Linked DNA regions of Homo sapiens. The protein of the gene in region 1 interacts with the protein of each later gene in a biochemical or structural test. Each region holds a gene or a part of one and is shown in the gene's direction. Other genes may lie near its edges.

The links.
Region 2: of the proteins of RUFY1 (region 1) and BMX, one has a biochemical effect on the other in vitro, tested with the Homo sapiens proteins (one study listed by BioGRID).
Region 3: the proteins of RUFY1 (region 1) and AP3B2 form a complex in vitro, tested with the Homo sapiens proteins (one study listed by BioGRID).
Region 4: the proteins of RUFY1 (region 1) and AP3S1 form a complex in vitro, tested with the Homo sapiens proteins (one study listed by BioGRID).

Annotation. Positions count from the first base shown.
Region 1 is NC_000005.10:179,602,506-179,607,172, forward strand, and holds part of RUFY1 (RUN and FYVE domain-containing protein 1), read left to right. Parts: exon of another isoform or gene 1-267; intron 268-1,101; exon of another isoform or gene 1,102-1,236; intron 1,237-3,370; coding exon 3,371-3,419; intron 3,420-4,667. UniProt on the Homo sapiens protein: Activating adapter involved in cargo sorting from early/recycling endosomes. Regulates retrieval of proteins from endosomes to the trans-Golgi network through interaction with the dynein-dynactin complex.
Region 2 is NC_000023.11:15,535,307-15,538,806, forward strand, and holds part of BMX (cytoplasmic tyrosine-protein kinase BMX), read left to right. Parts: intron 1-1,046; coding exon 1,047-1,121; intron 1,122-1,827; coding exon 1,828-1,999; intron 2,000-3,500. UniProt on the Homo sapiens protein: Non-receptor tyrosine kinase that plays central but diverse modulatory roles in various signaling processes involved in the regulation of actin reorganization, cell migration, cell proliferation and survival, cell adhesion, and apoptosis.
Region 3 is NC_000015.10:82,670,987-82,676,298, reverse strand, and holds part of AP3B2 (AP-3 complex subunit beta-2), read left to right. Parts: intron 1-5,312.
Region 4 is NC_000005.10:115,910,523-115,915,658, forward strand, and holds the end of AP3S1 (AP-3 complex subunit sigma-1), read left to right. Parts: intron 1-1,566; coding exon of another isoform or gene 1,567-1,614; exon of another isoform or gene 1,615-2,833; intron 2,834-2,839; coding exon 2,840-2,968; 3' UTR 2,969-3,559; downstream 3,560-5,136. UniProt on the Homo sapiens protein: Part of the AP-3 complex, an adaptor-related complex which is not clathrin-associated. The complex is associated with the Golgi region as well as more peripheral structures.

The DNA of each region.
Region 1 (4,667 bases):
GCTCTCCTCCTTGGTGTCCCAGTCTAGATAGGTTGCTGTGGACGCCTGGGCCTTGGGGTGGATCACACTGCGGACTGTGGAACTTGCCCATTTGTGTGATGATTCTGCATTTTCAACATAGTGGGTAGCTTTTCTCCTCGAGTCAGGGCGCATGGTTGCAAGTAACAGAAATCCAACTCAAAGTGGCTTAAGCAAAAGAAGCCATCAGGAATCGGTCTCTGTCTCCTACCTCTGCTATCCTGTCTGCCTCACAGGTGGGTCTGGACCCTGCAGGGGCAAAACAGCACTCAGCAAGGCCATCTATCAGAGGAACAAACTCCCTCTTCTTTGTGCATAGCTGCCAGGATCACCCGAGATTGACCCTGCTCCCGAGTACCCATGCCTGACATAAGCACCATGACCAAGGAGATGGGGCTCACGACCTCAGCACAGCCTGGTCTGCACCAGAAATTTGTAGAGTCTAGTACTATTAAGAAAATAGGCCGGGTGCGGTGGCTCACGCCTGTAATCTCAGCACTTTGGGAGACTGAGGTGAGCAGATCACCTGAGGTCAGGAGTTCGAGACCAGCCTGGCCAACATAGTGAAGCCCCGTCTCTACTAAAAATACAAAAATTAGCCAGGCATGGTGGGCACCTGTAATCCCAGCTACTCGGGAGGCTGAGACAGCAGCATCGCTTGAACCCGGGAGGCAGAGGTTGCAGTAAGCCGAGATTGCACCACTGCACTCCAGCCTGGGCAACAAAAGTGAGAATCCATCTCAAAAAAAAAAAACAAATAGCTGGTCAGGGAATCTGATGTCTCTGGTGGGAATGCGGTCTGCCCACTCCCAGATGCAGGTGCTGGCCACTCGCCGTCTCTCCTGTGCCTCTTACCTTTCTAGACTAGCCCATGGCCGCTGCTTCCTCCCCTCCCACCCTCCGCCCTGCCTGCCACCCACTCAGCTGAGTGCCCTGTGCTGCTCCCGTCTGGCCTGTCAACTTGCCGTGCTCTGGCCCGTTCCTTCCCAACCCCCAGGGAGCTCCTTGAGGGACGCAAGGCCCAGTGTCTGTCCCCATGCTCAGAGCATAGGCCAGCTGTGAGGGCATCCCGAGAGCACTCACCAGAAGCAGACGTGGAACAGAGCTGGCGTGGAGCTGGCTTCTGGGGTTTGCAGCCAGTGTTTTCCTCTTTACATTGGATGGACAGCAAGGCAGTGTCACAGGTCCCCTCCTAGTGGACCATAGACCTCGAAACTGTGGTTGGTCTCTGATCTTTAAAATGTATCATTGTGGCCGGGTGTGGTGGCTCATGCCTGTAATCCCAGCCCTTTGGGAGGCTGAGGTGGGTGGATCACCTGAGGTCAGGAGTTCAAGACCAGCCTGACCAACGTGGAGAAACCCCATCTCTACTAAAAATATAAAATTAGCCGGGCATGGTGGAGCGCGCCTGTAATCCCAGCTACTCAGGAGGCTGAGGCAGGAGAATCGCTTGAACCTGGGAGGCGGAGGTTGCGGTGAGCCGAGATCGCGCCATTGCACTCCAGCCTGGGCAATAAGAGTGAAACTCTGTCTCAAAAACAAACAAACAAATGTATTGTTGCACTTTGTGGCCGCCTGGCACTACCGGCTAACCTAGCTTCCAAATCCCAGTGTGAGCTGCCTGGCCACCATTCCCTCCCAGTGAGTGCTGTGGGTGTCACAGCATCAGGTGTTTGCAAACCCAGACAGGACTACCTGAGGAGTTGCTTTTGTGCTCTCTCCCCTCTTCCCTTCTTCCTCTTGCAAGCCTATACCGGATGACAGAGATGGCAAAGCCTCTTCGCAGGCCCTACATTAGCTACAGGAACAGTTTCCAGTTTCATTGGCTTGGGAACATCTGGATTCTTCCTAAATTGTGTTTCCCAGAGTTCTTGTATGTTCAGTTTGCCTTGTTGACCTGGCTTCCCAAGGTCTGTCCATCTGCGCAGCCTCTTCTCATCCTGTCAATCTGCTGGCCTATTTCCTGTTTCTGCAGCCGGACCAGGAAGGGAAGGAGCTGCCTCCCGATCTTTAGTAAAAGCCACAGGGATTTTTCTAAATGCCCTGATGCTGTTTTCTAATCCCTCCCTTCGAAGTCTAGCCTGTGTTTCCCAGAGACCTGCCATTTTGTCACTGAGATGAGTCTAATCTGATGATAGTTCAGACTGATCTCAGCTTTTAAGAAAGACCCAGGCCAGGCTGGGCGTGGGGGCTCAGGCCTCTAATCCCAGCACTTTGGGAGGCCGAGGCAGGTGGATCACTTGAGGTCAGGAGTTCAAGACCAGCCAGGCCAATATGGTGAAACCCCATCTCTAGTAAAAGTACAAGAAAATAAGCTGGGTGTGGTGTCGGGCGCCTGTCATCCCAGCTACTTGGGAAGCTGAGGCAGGAGAATTGCTTGAGCCCAGGAAGCAGAGGTTGCAGTGAGCCGAGATCACACCACCGCACTCCAGCCTGGCCAATGCAGCAAGACTCCATCTCAAAAAAAAAAAAGAAAAAAAGAAAAAGGCTCAGGCCTATAATCCTAGCACTTTGGGAGGCTGAGGCAGGTGGGTCAATTGAGGTCAGGAGTTCAAGACCAGCCTGGGCAACATGGCAAAACCCCACCTCTAGAAAAAATACAAAAATTAGCCAGGCGTGATGGCATGCACCTGTAGTCGCAGCTACTTGGGAGACTAAAGTGAGAGGATCACTTGAGCCCAGGAGGTCAAGGTTGCAGTGAGCCATGATTGCACCACTGCATTCCAGCCTGGGCAATATAGCAAGATCCTGTCTCAAAAAAAAAAAAAAAAGGATCAGACTGTTTCCCTCAATTGCACAAACTGCTTCATTTTATTTGGTTTAGTTCTGCCAATTTAGACCATGTTCAGTCCTGTCTCTTGTGTAAACAAAGGAATTGTTCTGACACTGAACAAGAATGGAGCAAGAACAAATGGCTATGCCATCTGAGCCTTCCCCCTTCCAGACAGCAGGCAGCAGAATGGAGGCCGGGGAGAAGCCTGCAGACTCAGGTTCCTGCTGGGGAGAGCGGTAGAGACTAGTGCAGAACAGGGCCAGGTCTTGGACTTCTGGCCTCAGGCCATCCTCTCGCCTCAGCCTCCCTCAAAGTCTTTTTGAGCCCCTGCAGGCTAAGCAGTGTGTTCTCGTGCCAGATGCAGTCCCAGGCTCAGCCTCAGCCCTCAGCAGACGGGAGCCAGTGTGATGAGGCAACTCTGGGATTGTACAGAGGCGGAAGGCATTTTAACAACTCACGTTCTGGGTCTCCTCACAAGTCCGGTATCCTCACAAAGCTAGTCCTGAGAGCCAGCTGTGTTAGGGATTCAGAGCCTCACTCTCTCTCACTGCTATGAAATGGCCTTTTTTTTTTCCTTAGGTCCAAGCTGAAGATGGAAGATATAAAAGAAGTGAACCAGGCACTGAAGGTACTGCCTTGCTAAGAACCACTTCTTTGCTGTCAGCTTGTGCTGACTGCCCGTGTGCTCGTACGTTTAAGTATCCCAACAGTCAGGTGAGAGCGTGTGGTTGAGGCAGTGGTGATGACGTATTGACAGAGAAGCCAAACGCTGCTCAGAAACGTGTCCCTCGGCTGAGGGCGATGCTGACAGGTGGCCGAAGCTGAGCCTAGGTCTTCCGACTCCAGTTCCTCCACCATCAGCTGTGCTTTCAAAATAGGCCTGATGGGCATTCCCTAAGGGGGAAGCAGGTGGCGGAGAGGAGGGACCCGCGGATATCTTTAAACAGTGGAAAACAGGCCCTTCTGTTGAAGTGAGGGGCCAGAGGCCAGCCAGCCCCACTGCAGTGCCCTGTGCCATTGCTAGGGACCACTCAAGCCAAGCCCTGAGTTGGGCCAGGTTTCCGCACCCTGGTGGGGAGGGCAGAATGACACATTCCACCGAAAAGCAGGAGTTTGCAGGTGGCCCGGTGTGGGTGCGGGTGCCAGGCTGAGCTGCAGGGCGGAGAGTGTGGGAGAGGAGGCAGACATTCGGGGGCACGGCAGCCTGGCCTTCAAGACAGCCTTGCCTGCAGGAGCACCCCGCTTCGGCCTCAGCTGTGCCGTGGCAGCAATGCAAAAGCAGTCCCTTTGCACACTGTTCCACGTGGTGCAGAGCAGGGACCCTGATGTCTCTGGGCATCTAACTTCCAAGTGCCAGGTCAGGGGCAGCAACTAACAGCAGCCGGGACTTCTAGGTAATATCAGTTTCACAGCATCAGAGGATAGAAATCATAAAACAGGACTCTAGAGCCGCCAGAGCTCTTTGATGTCAGGATGAATGTCCTGGGCACACACTGGCAGCCCCAAGGGTATATGGCTCTAGCTCAGTCTGTGAGGATCTATTTGTCAGCAAGAAAATCTTGTCCAGCAGATGTTAACAGGCCAGAAAAGTACCTCATGCCTTTGACTTCTCTGGAACACCCCAGTCCCTAAGCCCAAATAAATCACAGGTGCTGCTTCGCCCTGAGAAAGCCCTCTGAGGGGCCACCTTTCAAAGCCTCAGCCGCCTCCCCTGTGGAATGGAGTCCATGTGCTCCCCAGGGCTGGTCAAGAATCAGGGCTTTGGCCCGCATGGAGAAGGGCTTCCTCAGGCCTGTGGGACGCAGTGCCCGCTGTCCATCACCTTCTGTCTCTCCACAAGGATCAGCGTCAACAAGTGTCTTAGTCTCACTCAGAT
Region 2 (3,500 bases), on another chromosome or scaffold:
GCCATAAGCTCAGCACTTAATTTGTGTTACTTTATATGACTTGATTGCATGCATGTAGGTGAATTGACCTCACTTCTGGCTTTCATTTTGGCTCTTACTGATGTTTTTCCTTTGCCCCAATTTCCTCAATTGTTTATTTTAACCTGTAGTACCTCAGAAGTACCTTTTGTAAAAGGTATTGCACAAAGAGATGCACAGGAAACTTCACAGGATATCAGAAGGAAATATTAAGATGTTTATTTATATTTGGATTTTTATCTCATTCTCTTACATTTTCTGTTTGTGAGTTTATTTTTATAATTCACACCAAATATATATTTTATAGAAATGTACTAATTTTTACATTTTAATTAATTAATTTAGTTGATTAAAGGTAAAGGATTTTAAAAGTTTGGAGACCACTCATATAAAAACCAGACAAATATATAGAAAAAGGAAGGAGGGGAAAAGTACATGTGTGATAGATAGGTCCCTTGACTTGGAGAGCATTCCACATTTAAAGCAAAAAACATATATACATATATTTTAATGGGTTCTTTCAAGCCACTATTAAATTTTATAATTACTTTAACCCAGTTTTACCATAACTAAATATAAACAATTAAAATGGCTTGACCACTTAATGAAACTTAGTAATAGGTTCAGTTTTTAAAAATTCAGATGGCTTATTATTTTTACCCTTCTGTATTGTTTGAATTTTTTGTCAAATGTATGTGCTGTGTGTATACATATTTTAAGCATAAGATTGTAAAGAGATAGCAAAAAAGAAGGGGGAGAATTTTAAAAGATTACATCATGCAATTAATTTCTATGGGATTTTTAAAAATCACATACAGTGTTTTATTCATTTAATTTTCGCTTTGCATTAAGCTAATTAGTCAAGTTAAGCACAACTACAACTGAATGGATTCTCTCTCTGCATTACAACATTCTGAACTCTTTGCTTTTTCAGCCACTTTGGAGAGAGACTAGTTGTGAACCAATGTTACATAATGTGATGGGATATGATATAATGATGTGATGATATGATGCTGATTCCATTGCAGGCATGATCACACGGCTCCGCCACCCTGTGTCAACAAAGGCCAACAAGGTCCCCGACTCTGTGTCCCTGGGAAATGGTATGGATACATACTTGGGTTCTTAAACTCCATTTTCCATCATTTTTTATTTAAATATATGGTTAATTTACTGGCAAAAAAAAAAAAAAAGGAGGAAAGACAGGAAGGAGGCCTCTGTTCAGATTGTATCAGGAAGGATTTTCTTTAAAAAAAAAAAAAATCTGTCCTCTCAACCTAAATCTGTAAGCTTCTAGAATCACCAAGAAGATCATCAATTTGTTTTCTTATCAGACCCCATTATTAGCCTCCAGCACACCATTGTCTGTCCTATCTTTTTCCTGGATTTTGTGCCCACTGAGCAGAGCCAGTATTCAACCTTGTGTGTTAGGACGATCACATCCACTGCGATCACAGTTTAATTTTTTTATTAAAAAAATCTGACAATGTTTTACCAATCTAAGGACATCGAGTACATTTTGATGCTAAGCCTCTCCAAGATGCCTCTGATTGGCAAATTGTTTTTACTCTGAGCCTTCTTGTTAAATAACTGTAGCTACTTCAAGAATAGTGTTACCCTGGTGCCATTATCACGTAGCCACAAGACCACATCACTAAGGGTTTTTTTTTTTAACTTATCAACTTAAAATAAAAAGTCTTGTTTATATTGTCACTGTGAAACTCCCATTGGAGAAGAAATCACTTGGGAAGCTGTTAGCCCCAAAGCTTTCTATGCTCGTCCTAAAGAATGTCCGTCTTGCCTTGTTAGGAATCTGGGAACTGAAAAGAGAAGAGATTACCTTGTTGAAGGAGCTGGGAAGTGGCCAGTTTGGAGTGGTCCAGCTGGGCAAGTGGAAGGGGCAGTATGATGTTGCTGTTAAGATGATCAAGGAGGGCTCCATGTCAGAAGATGAATTCTTTCAGGAGGCCCAGACTATGATGTAAGTTTTTCCCAAGGAATGGCTGTTTAGCCCTCATCATGGGAGGGCATTAGCACTAATAGGCCTGCTGTTAACTTTGCAAGGCCTAGAGCAAAAGTCCACATACTGTATCATAGACATAAATATTTAGAAGTTATAAATTGAACTAACAGACTATTAAATCAAATCAGTCTTATGCTCCTACTTTGACAAATATACCTTCATAACAACCTGAAAGGCCATATTCAAATTGAGAATTCCCAAGACTCTACAAAGAAACCAGCCTCTGGCCTGTGGTCTTCCAAACTCCACCCCTCCTGCTTCTCCCCTCATACCCAACTCCGTCCTGCACTATAAGGGGCCTCAGTAGTTATGTACAGACACAGCATTCAGTACACACAAGCTCCCTCTTTGTCTCCCGCAAACAATTATCTAGTGGCTAATGATCTTGGCTAGGGGTAGTGTGCTTTACCCTTAAGCGGACAGACTCCTTAAGGAAGAGTCAGCACAGGTCCTGAAAGAGGCCTCAGGACTATATGGTTGGGTGATTTCAGAGTCCTGGTGCTCTAAGGGTGGCAGAGAAAGGGACATATAGGGTCGGAGTAGGCATGTCTCCTTGGCCCTGTGGCCTCCTTGCCCTGTGGGGAGGTGCATGGTGGGATGAAGAACAGAGTGGGGCTACCACCCAGAACTAATGCAGTACTGAAAATTAATGCTCTACCAACAATATCCTTTTCCTTCTTGGTACCTTCAATACAGTCTAATACTCTTCCTAATGTGTCTCAGCTCCCAGCACAACAGCCTTCAATTATTGGCAATACATATGTGTTCTCTTTCCCTCTGTGTCTTCTCTCTCTCTCTCTCTTCCCCCTCTCTCTCTTTCTCTCTCCCTCTCTCTCCCTCTTCCTCTCTCTCCTTCTCTCTCTCTCTCCCTCTCTCTCCCTCTCTCAGTTGTATATAATTCTCCCTCTTCTTGTCAACATAGTAAATCAGACTTTGTAGAGTGACCACCATTCAGGTTTGCTGAGGTCTGGGAGGTTTTAGCACTGAAAGTCCTGTGTCCTAGGAAACCTCCCAGCCCCAGGCAAACCAGGACAGTTGGTCACTCTACTTTTAGAGAATCAATCAGTATGGTATGAAAAATGATGTTATAGTAGGTCTCTGGTCAAAAATAGTTGAAATAAAAAAATTCCTAGCCTGCTAGAGATTGAGAGCACTTTTTAAATTTTTACTTAAACAGTTATACTGTACAGTGTTTACAGGCATTTCTCTAAGCACTTTACAAATATTAACTCACTTAATCCCCATAAGAAACCTATGAGGGTTGTACCATCGTTATCTTAGATTTACAGGAAACCGAAGCACAGAAATGTTGAATAACTTGTCCAGAGTCGGCAAGCTAGTAAAAGTCGAAAAGCAGAGATACAAACCCAGGCAGACATTCTAGGGTCCATTTCTTTAGTTATTCTTTTATGAAGACCAAAGGAATTAGGAAAGTCAGAACAATCACTTTTACCATAAT
Region 3 (5,312 bases), on another chromosome or scaffold:
TGCCCACAAAGACCTTGTAGTGCTGGTGGTCACTGTTGAAGAGACTCTCCTATGAAGCTGTGACCTCCAGTCTGCTAGTACAAGAGTCCTGTCTGCCACCTTGGAACTCTGGGGCTGTGAAGAACCACAGTTGATTGGGATAAGGGAAGGGCCCAACAGTGGCAGGTACTGATGGGAGAACATGCATCCCAGATGTGGTCTGTGCTTCTTTCCAAAGCTTGACAATGCTTGGCCAGTCTGTGCCAAAGATAAGGGGGTGAGTCTCTGCTTGGGCTTGGGTGGTGCTGGTGGCCACTGTCATTCCCAAGGTGAAAGGTTATAAGAGATACACAGCCAAGGATGAGGCTCAACTAAGTTGTAGTATCAGGGTGTTCAGAGCCTCCTAGCTGTCTGGCATCTCCTGAGATGGTTCCAGGAGATTCTCCTAAAATGAAGCATAATGTGCTGAGCTTTTCAAGGTGTCAGGGACATCAAACACCATGACGATTTCCACACTCTCCCACTCAGTTAAGCAGGACAGGGATTGGCAAACTACTGCCCATAGGCTGAATTTGGCCTATTCCTGTTTTTGTAATAAAGTTTTGTTGGAACACAGCCCTGCTCATTCATTTACAAATTACCTATGGCTGCTTTTGTGCTACAACAGCAGGGTTAACTAGTTGCAACAGACTGTATTGCCCACAAAGCCTAGAATAGTTATTCTCTGGCCCTTTTATAAAAAGACTCTGCCAATCCTTGAAGCAAAACCTCTGGCTAGGTGGCTGGGGTCTACAGATTTATAGCAGGGATATCCCCTGGAGACTGTAGCATCCCTGCCATGTCCACTGTGCGTGGGAGTCTTTGGATGGTGGCACTTATCTTTTTCAGTGGCTTCTTTGATCCATTGTGGCCAGAGTGAGCCCCAGAGGCTCAAGGTGAGGTAGGCAGGGCCACCAAGTGCTGTGACTGTAATCAGGAGTCAAAGGACAGCAGCAACATGTGGAGGCAACTGAGTCTGTATAATTAAATATGCTAGCCTTATCAAAAGTAACTTCCAAACCTTAGGTCTTCAGGTGGAAGGAGGAGAGACACTGGACCATGTGACCCTGAGCTTGTTATCAGTGTTGTGGGCAAAGCAGATTGGAGAGAGAGAAGTTAGAGGGGGAGAGAGAGAAGTTAGAGGGAGAAAGAGCACCATGGGGAAGCGTTCAATCGTTGAAAAAATATTTGTATACTTCCTTTGTTCAGGTGGGAGGAAGGAGCAAGTGGGAGGAATGTTTGAAAAGATGAAGCAGCCTGGGTGGGGAGCCACCCAGGTAGGTGGGAGTCTTGACATGCTCAGCAATGAGCCAGAGTCCTAAACCCCAGGATGGTGAGGTTGGCATGTTTTCATAAGCCTGGGCCTGTCCACATGTCATTTCCCCCAAGTTGTCACTGTGAGCTACATGTGCATTTGTTCATTTATTTAACATATATGTAGGTGGGAGTCTGACATGCTCAGCACTGAGCCAGAGTCCTAAACCCCAGGATGGTGAGGTTGGCATGTTTTCATAAGCCTGGGCCTGTCCACATGTCATTTCCCCCAAGTTGTTACTGTGAGCTACATGTGCATTTGTTCATTTATTTAACATGTAGGCCTACTATTTGCCTGGTACTGTGCTGCGTCCTGAGGATATGACAATGAGTGAGACACATTTACAGGTCTCCAGATACTCACAGCCAAGTAGGAGAAACAGGACAAAAATAAACATTTTAAACACAGCAGTAACAGCTGTCATCAGGGTTGGCACAGCGAGCTGTGGGTATATACAGCTGAACCCTCCCCTAGGAATGACCCCTGTCAGGGAACCCAGAGTAGGCTGTTCAGGCAAATGGACACTCACCTCCAGGGCGCCCTTCACCTGCAAGTGAGTTTTTGCAGGCCCCTTAGAATGGTTATTTGATTCAATAAAGATTTTTGTCCTCCCTTTCTTTCTCCTTTCTTCCCAGCCTCTTCTGGGAGTGGTAAAGAAGGGGGAGTCCTTGGGGTACTAGGAGGGAGGTGGTTTGGATGCGCACATGACCATGCTTGCAAAACAGTAGTGATGCTTCCCATCCTGGGACCATGAGTGGCAATCTGCCCAGCTAAAAGGCCACAGTAATCTCAGTCATTCTCTCCAATTTGGACATGGGCCCACGGCATGCCAGATCCTGGCCCAGGATGAGGCCAAGGAAATGACCAAGATGAGGCCTCTGCCCTGCTATTGATCAGCAGATAATCAGATACTAGACCAGAGGCCACAAAGGCATAACATGCAGGTGGCGGGGGATGGGGGGGTTGGTAATCAAAGTGGCTATTACATCCACCTGGATATAGACCCTGGGGAAACTGCCTAGCAGGTTAGTTTGCTTTTATGTGTCAGGTGAGATGTGTGGCAGGAGGGTCTGCCAGGGGCACAGTGGGATCTACAACCCTCCCATGTGACCGCCTTTACAGTGAATAGAAGATTCTGACAAATTTTGCAGAATTGCTTTTAAAAACGTAAACTTTTTTTAATATGCTAAAGGTAATACATGCTTATCATAGAACATTTGGAAAACTCAGAAAATTATAAGTTTAAACTATTAATAAGTCCACCATTTAGAAGACCACCATTAATTATATATTTCCTTATTTTTTATTCCTATATATAGTCATTCAGAAGTTGTACTTTTGTCTATTGTCCAATATTTTAAACTTTTCTGCTTCTTTTCAATGCTTTCATATTTAATACTTTTTTTTCCCCATTCACATTTCAATTAAACTTTTCACTTAGAATTTTCTCCAGGCTGGGTTCAGTGGCTCACACCTGTAATCCCAGCACTTTGGGAGCCCAAGGTGGGTGGGTCATTTGAGGTCATGAATTCAAGACCAGCCTGACCAACATGGCAAAACCCTGTCTCTACTAAAAGTACAAAAAAATTAGCTGGGTGTGGTGGTGCGCTGAAATCTCAGCTACTTGGGAGGCTGTGGCAGGAGAATTGCTTGAACCCAGGAGGTGGAGGTTACAGTGAGCTGAGATGGTACCACCACACTCCAGCCTGGGCCACAGAGCAAGATCCATCTCAAAAATAAATAAAAATTAAAAAGAATTTCCTCCAAATTTTTTTCTACTTTCACATTTTTAAATCAATTGTATTAGTTTTCTGCTACATAATAAATTACTATAAATTTGGTGGCTTCAAACAACACACGTTTATTTTCTCAGTGTCTATGGGTCGAGAATTCAGGTATGGCTTAGTTGGATCTTATGCAAGGCTACAACTGAGGTGTCAGCCAAGGCTGAGTTTTTATCTGGAGGCTGTACTGGGGAAAGGTCCACTTCCAAGTCACATGGTGCCACGATCCACTTCCTTGCAGTTGTAGGATTGTGGCCCTGGCTTCTTGCTGGCTGTCAGCTGGGGGCTGCCCTTGCCTTCTAGAGGCCGTCCTTAGCTCATTGCCATAGGGGCCTCCCAACACGGATGCTTAATTTCTCCAAAGCCACAAGGGAGAAAGTCTCTAGAGCCAGTCTGCTAGCAAGACCGTCTTCTTTTTATTTTTTAATTTTTATGGGTACATAGTAGGTGTATATATTTATGGGGTATGTGAGATATTTTGATACAGGCATATAATGCATAACAATCACATCAGGGAATGGGGTATCCATCCTCTCAAGCATTTATCTTTTGTGTTACAAACAATCAAATTACACTCTCTTAGTTATTTATAAATGTATAATAAATTATTGTTGACTGTAGTCACCCTGTTGTGCTGTCAAATACTAGATCTTACACATTCTATCTAACTATAATTTTGTACCCATTAACTATCCCCACTTCCCCCACCCACTACCCTTCTCAGCCTCTGGTAACCATTATTCTACTCTCCAACTCCATGAGCTCAATTCTTTTAATTTTTAGCCCTCACAAATAAGTGAGAACATGTGAAGTTTGTTTTTCTGTGCTTGGCTTATTTCACTTAAAATAATGACCTCTAGTTCTATCCATGTTGTTGCAAATGACAGGATCTCATTCTTTTTTATTCTTTTTTTATAGTACTGCATTGTGCATATGTACCGTATTTTCTTTATCTATTTGTCTGTTGATAGACACTTAAGTTGCTTTCAAATCTTGGCTATGGTGAACAGTGCTGCAATAAACGTAGGTGTGCAGATATAACTTCAATATGTTGATTTCCTTACTTTTGGGTATATACATAGCATTGGGATTGCTGGATCATATGGTAGCACTATTTTTAGTTTTTGTTTGTTTGTTTGAGATGGAGTCTTGCACTGTCACCCAGGCTGGAGTGCAATGGCATGATCTCAGCTCACTGCAACCTCCGCCTCCCAGGTTCAAACGATTCTCCTGCCTCAGCCTCCTGAGTAGCTGGGATTACAGGCGCCCGCCACCAAGTCTGGCTAATTTTCATATTTTTAGTAGAGATGGGGTTTCACCATGTTGGCCAGGCTGGTCTTGAACTCCTGGCCGCAAGTGATCTGCCCGACTCGGCCTCCCAAAGTGCTGGGATTACAGGCGTGAGCCACTGCACCTGGCCTATTTGTAGTGTTTTTTTTTGAGATGGTGTTTCACTCTTTTTTCCCAGGCTGGAGTGCAATGGCGTGATCTTGCCTCACTGCAACCTCTGCCTCCTGGGTGCAAGTGATTCTTCTTCTGCCTCAGCCTCCCAAGTAGCTGAGATTACAGGTGCCTGCCACCACGCCTAGCTAATTTTTTGTATTTTTAGTAGAGACAGGGTTTCACCATGTTGGCCAGGATGGTCTTGATCTCTTGACCTCGCGATCCACCCACCTCGGCCTCCCAAAGTGCTGGGATTACAGGTGTGAGCCACCGTGCCCGGCCTATGTTTAGTTTTTTAAGGAACCTCCAAACTGTTCTCCAGACATTTCCACTAACAGTGTACAAGGGTTGCCTTTTCTCCATGTTCTTGTCAGCATTTGTTATTGCCTATCTTTTGGATATAAGCCTACTTGGGGTGAGATGATATATCTTTTTTTGTTTTGTTTTGTTTTTTGAGACGGAGTCTTGCTCTGTCACCCAGGCTGGAGTGTGCAGTGGTGCGATCTTGGCTCACTGCAACCTCTGCCTCTGTGGTTCAAGTGATTCTCCTGCCTCAGCCTCCTGAGTAGCTGGGACTACAGGCGTGCGTCACCACGCCCCGTTAATTTCTGTACTTTTAGTAAAGATGGGGTTTCGCTGTGTTGGTCAGGCTGGTCTCAACTCCTGATCTCAGGTGATCCGCCTGCCTCAGCCTCCCAAAGTACTGGGATTACAGGCATGAGCCACCCGTGCCTGGCCTTTCATTGTAGTTT
Region 4 (5,136 bases), about 64 Mb from region 1:
CTTAACCAAGATGAAAATTACTTCATACCTCTGTGTCAGCAAACTGATTGCCTAATGGAAAGTTACTTTACATTTTATGTTTTAATAAAAATGTTTCAGGCATCACTTTCATGAATGTCTGAAAATGAAATTTGTTTTATAGCCATTCTGGTGTTGACTGAGTGACATAAAGTCTTTTTTTTTAGCCCTAAATTTTTATATATAAACATTGCTAGCTGGTTTAAACATCTGTTGATCAATTGTCCTTATCATATTTTCTCAACATTTTATATTTTGCATAATATGATTTCTTTTTAAAACGTTAGTTTAATTAAAACTTAAAGCACCTATTACAACTTTAAATTTTCCTACCATTTAAATTCATGGCATACTACACAAAAGTATTGAACATGCTTGAGAAATAATTTGATCCTCCTAATTCATTTGCGTGTTCTGAATAGTTCCTATCTTTTGCATGTCTATGGCTTGCTGCTTATGTTTAGAAGAATTGTAGTTTGTTGTACTTAGAAACTTCTTTTGGTTTTACATATTAAGCACAAATATGCTATTTAAATCAATTGCTATATTGACTTTATGTATTCTTGTTAGCAGCCAACAGTCGACACCATCTTTGGTCACAATGATACAACTCAATCTAATGAAATTTAACAGGATGCATTTTTAAATTTTTTTAATTTATTTTTTGCTTTAGTTTAGCTCTTCATGGTACAGGATATTATGGAAAAGAGAGCTTCATGTACATTTAATACTGAAAACATTATGTTTACTATTTATAAGTGTAAACCATAGTGTCCAATAAAATACACAGATAAACACACACACACACACGCACAATTTCTCTCACAATAATAAAATCCCTTAATAATTCACACCTTTAAAATATTTATACTCAAATATTTTGTCAATACTTTTCTATAGTCAGTTCATTATTTGTCTTCTTTATGGAAATTCCTAAGTAAAAATAGTGGCAAATTGGTCTTTTAACTAGAAAAATTACAAAATCCTCCTATCTAAAAAATGATACTACCTCCAGGACGTCTGCAATTTTGTAAATTTTTCTTCCTTAGTAGACAACATACTTCCTGGTAAAAGAAAGCCAAAAGATGGTAAACCTCTTTGAATTGGATTCTTCTTTGATCCCAACCCACTCTAAATTTTGGTAGCTAGACCTTTAACTTGAAACGATCAAATTAAAGACCCTTTCAAATATTATACATGCTGCCTTAATTATTATTTAGTTGTATCTCCAACATCTTTGGGGGAGCAGGAAGGAAGGGGGGGTAACAAAAACTTCATTGCTTCAGGTAGGTATAAGTATAGAGGTCAATCACATTTTTAGTTGTACATCAAAAATAACTAACATCCATTAAATTATAAAACTTCTCCAGCCCTATTCACTATTTAATTGGGTATGGAGTTATTCATTTGTATCACTCTTATCATTGCCTGTGTAGAATATACTTATTATTAATACTATTCTACTAATTTTTCTATTATTTCCAATTCTGAATTGATAATCCATGGCTTTTATTTCATTGCTTAACAATGTTTGTATCCTTTATTTAGCAAATAGTTTACACTGGCCTATTTTGTATCAGTCAAGATTTTTCTCAGGTAACAGCTTTATTATTATTTTTATTTTAATTAACAAAGGTAGGATTACATAAGAAAAGAAAACTAAAATTATGAAAAGGGACCTTAAAGCTAGTGTTTCTAATTTTATGGACATTGCCATATATAATCTAATCAAAGTGGAAGATTCGTTTTTGTTGTCTATTTTTGTACAAAATGATGCCACTGAACTCAGATGTCTTTGTTGACTTTGCTTTATTATATAGCCTGAATAAAAAGTAATGAAATGTAATTGGTATATAAATTAAACCTCAAATATGAAGGCTGTTAACGTAGGTGAGAAAAATGATATGTATGCATTTTCTTTTATTTGTAAGCATATTTTCTTTTAAAATTATTTCACAAATTACAAATGTTCCTACTAATAGGAAAGCCAAATATTATGCACTAGTGGTACTTACTGGAAATTTTAGAATTCATTTATTTATATTTACTACCTCTTGCATTTATGCTTTTCTTTCTCTAAATTTGTAAACTGTAAGCTGAATATATGTTGCTGAATCTATGCTATATGACAAAACATTTTTAATCGTTATATTTTTACTAATGCATCAAAGGGTTGGAATGATCCTCTTCGTGTAGTTTCATCTTTAGGCAGAACTATATTCTTTGGATTGAGGCTTTACTTGAAAGCCTATTTTTTTAATGTTCTAGAACTTTATTAGAAAAGTTTAAAAGAGCCCTCACAATTTAAAAAACTAATTTTATTGTTTTAAAATGTTTTAAGGGTTTATCCCTAAGAAATTAAACAAGCACAATCTATTACTTGCAATTTTTATTTCACAGCACATATTGCTAATAAATGCCATTTTAAAAGCAAAAGAAAATCTATCACAATCGTTGCAAGAGATATTTAATAAGGAAACTAATGTAAATCATGCTTCATGCTATCTGTCAGTTAAATCAAGATATAGGTGAAGATTTAGGTTTTATCATGTGAATATTGTGTGGTAGTGCACATTAATTTGTATTTAAATCTTTACATTGTTATCATTGCATGTGTTCACTGTATTTTTTAATGTGTCACTGTTTTCTCTTTATAGATTAGTATTTCAAAGTAACCATTCCATACCAATTCAAACTACCATCTGGTCCCTAAGCTTGTTATATGAAAATCTTTTATCATTGTCTTCCATTGTAAGTGTTTTATGATGAGCTACACCTGAGTTGTACATTTTCTTTTTCTTTTATTTGCTTCTGTATACAGGCTGGCTTAGCAGGAGCTCCAGCCCGTGCTGTATCAGCTGTAAAGAATATGAATCTTCCTGAGATCCCAAGAAATATTAACATTGGTGACATCAGTATAAAAGTGCCAAACCTGCCCTCTTTTAAATAAAAATGTAAAAAGGCCACTCCCAGGTAAAATCCAGGGGGAAGAGTCATCTAAGTTTACCATGCAGTTGTTTACCAAAAATAGAGGAGGAGAGTCTTAACTTTTGCTCTTGGATTTAAGTCAAGGTACTGTATAGAAGTTGTGTAAAATCAGTATGAAAGTTCAATGTTGCTGTTCTTGCTCAGTGATTTTAAAGAAATTGAGTAGTTCCTATGTGATTTTTTTTTTTCTTTTCTAAACTGCATTCCTGTGCCCACCTACGGCATGCCTCTATGTATTGGCTACTACAGTGTTTTAAAAAGTGTTTCAGATATTTCTCTAATTATGTACAACCTAAAATGTTGGTGTTTTGTATGGATCACAAGTGCAGCATTCCTTAATTCCTTCTGCTATATGTCACACAGTTGTTATTTGGAGAACCAAGTATGTATTGCATGAAAACATTATGACTTTTTTCTCTTAGTTTAAATAAACTCCAAGGTAACTGGACTTCTAAAGCACCTTTCTGTTTGCCTGATATCTACTTTAGCAATAATTTTTTTTACAACCCTCTGACTCAACAAAGTAAATAAAAGTATATTTTATCACTATTAAGCAGATGTTAATGTCGATTTATTTTTTACTCATATTTTTAATATTCAGAAACTCAGTAAATTATTCGGAAACTCAATTATTTCACAAATCAAGAGCAGTGTATCTTAGGCATATTGCGCAAGATGAGATCTGGAGTGGGGGGGCGACAGTCTTTCTAAAATGTATATTGAGAAAATGTAAAATCTTTTTTATACAAATAGCTTTAAGCCTTGCCTCTTGTTCCTTCTTGCCCAGATGGTAAAAAATAATTTCAGCCAATACCTAATTGATTTTGAATACAAAAACCCTTGGGACTCTACTTGTCTGTTTCATCCTAAAACAAAGTTAAACTAATGTTTTCTTAAGTCCTAACACTCACATATTCTAGTTTCTTATAATTGGCCCACATTTTATTTGGTCTTCCATGAACTGTGAGTGAGGTTACTTTTCCAGTTAGACTAAGGTTTTCCTTACAGTTCTAGTTCTCCTTCCTCAAATATTCTCTTTGAAATACTTCCATAGACTTGCAGCATGTATGAATTTTACTCCAAGAACCCTAAGATATAAGAAAAGTTACTTTATTTTTTTCTAAATAAAATTAATCTGTCTCTAAGCTCTCCAGCATGTTAGGGTAACAGGAAATTTAATCTGATTATTGGGATTTCCATCAGCTCAGAGATAAGAAAAAGTCCTAGAGAAAGGTTATGCAGAGTAGAGCATTTCAGGAGGTCCCTGGTCTTTAGTCATTTGACAGTGTTTATTAAGTGTTTACTGTGCGCTCCCAAGTCCCTGTCTTTTTTTTTTTTTTTTTTTTTTTTTTTTCCCAGAAGGAGTCTCGCTCTGTCGCCCAGGCTGGAGTGCAGTGCGCGATCTCGGCTCACTGCAACTGTGCCTCCCGGGTTCACACCATTCTCCTGCCTCAGCCTCCCGAGTAGCTGGGACTACAGGCGCCCGCCACCACGCCTGGCTAATTTTTAGTAGAGACGGGGTTTCACCGTGTTAGCCAGGATGGTCTGGATCTCCTGACCTCGTGATCCGCCTGCCTCAGCCTCCCAAAGTGCTGGGATTACAGGCGTGAGCCACCGCACCCGGCCGTCCCTGTCTTTATGGAGCGATATCAGTAACACAGAGTGCCTAGCAGTACCCCCTCCCCTCACCACCACCCCACCCTTTTCCTTTTCTCGTTGTTTTTGGGGAAACAAATTATGGGAAGGTTAAATGTTGGTTTGGTTAGGATATGCCAAAATTAGGGAAACCTCTGGGCCAGAGCATACTTTAACTTCAAGAAACAGTCAAAAGTGTTTTATCTCCCATTATATTCTATCAAATACAATGCCCCAACAACCAACCATCCTTCCTCCCCTTCCATTCTCTCATCTCCCCTCCCTCTCTCTTTTCTTTCCTGCAGAAAATACTTAGCATTAGCTATGTGCCAGGCATTGTTCTGGGTACTAGGATAGAGCAGGGAACAAACTAGATTCTGTTGGAACATAAATTCATGTGGGGTGAAACAATAAATATATGATATGTCAGGAGGTGAGAAGTGCTATGGAGAAAAGTAAACCTGGGTAAAAGATAGGGAATAGTAGGGTTGGGGG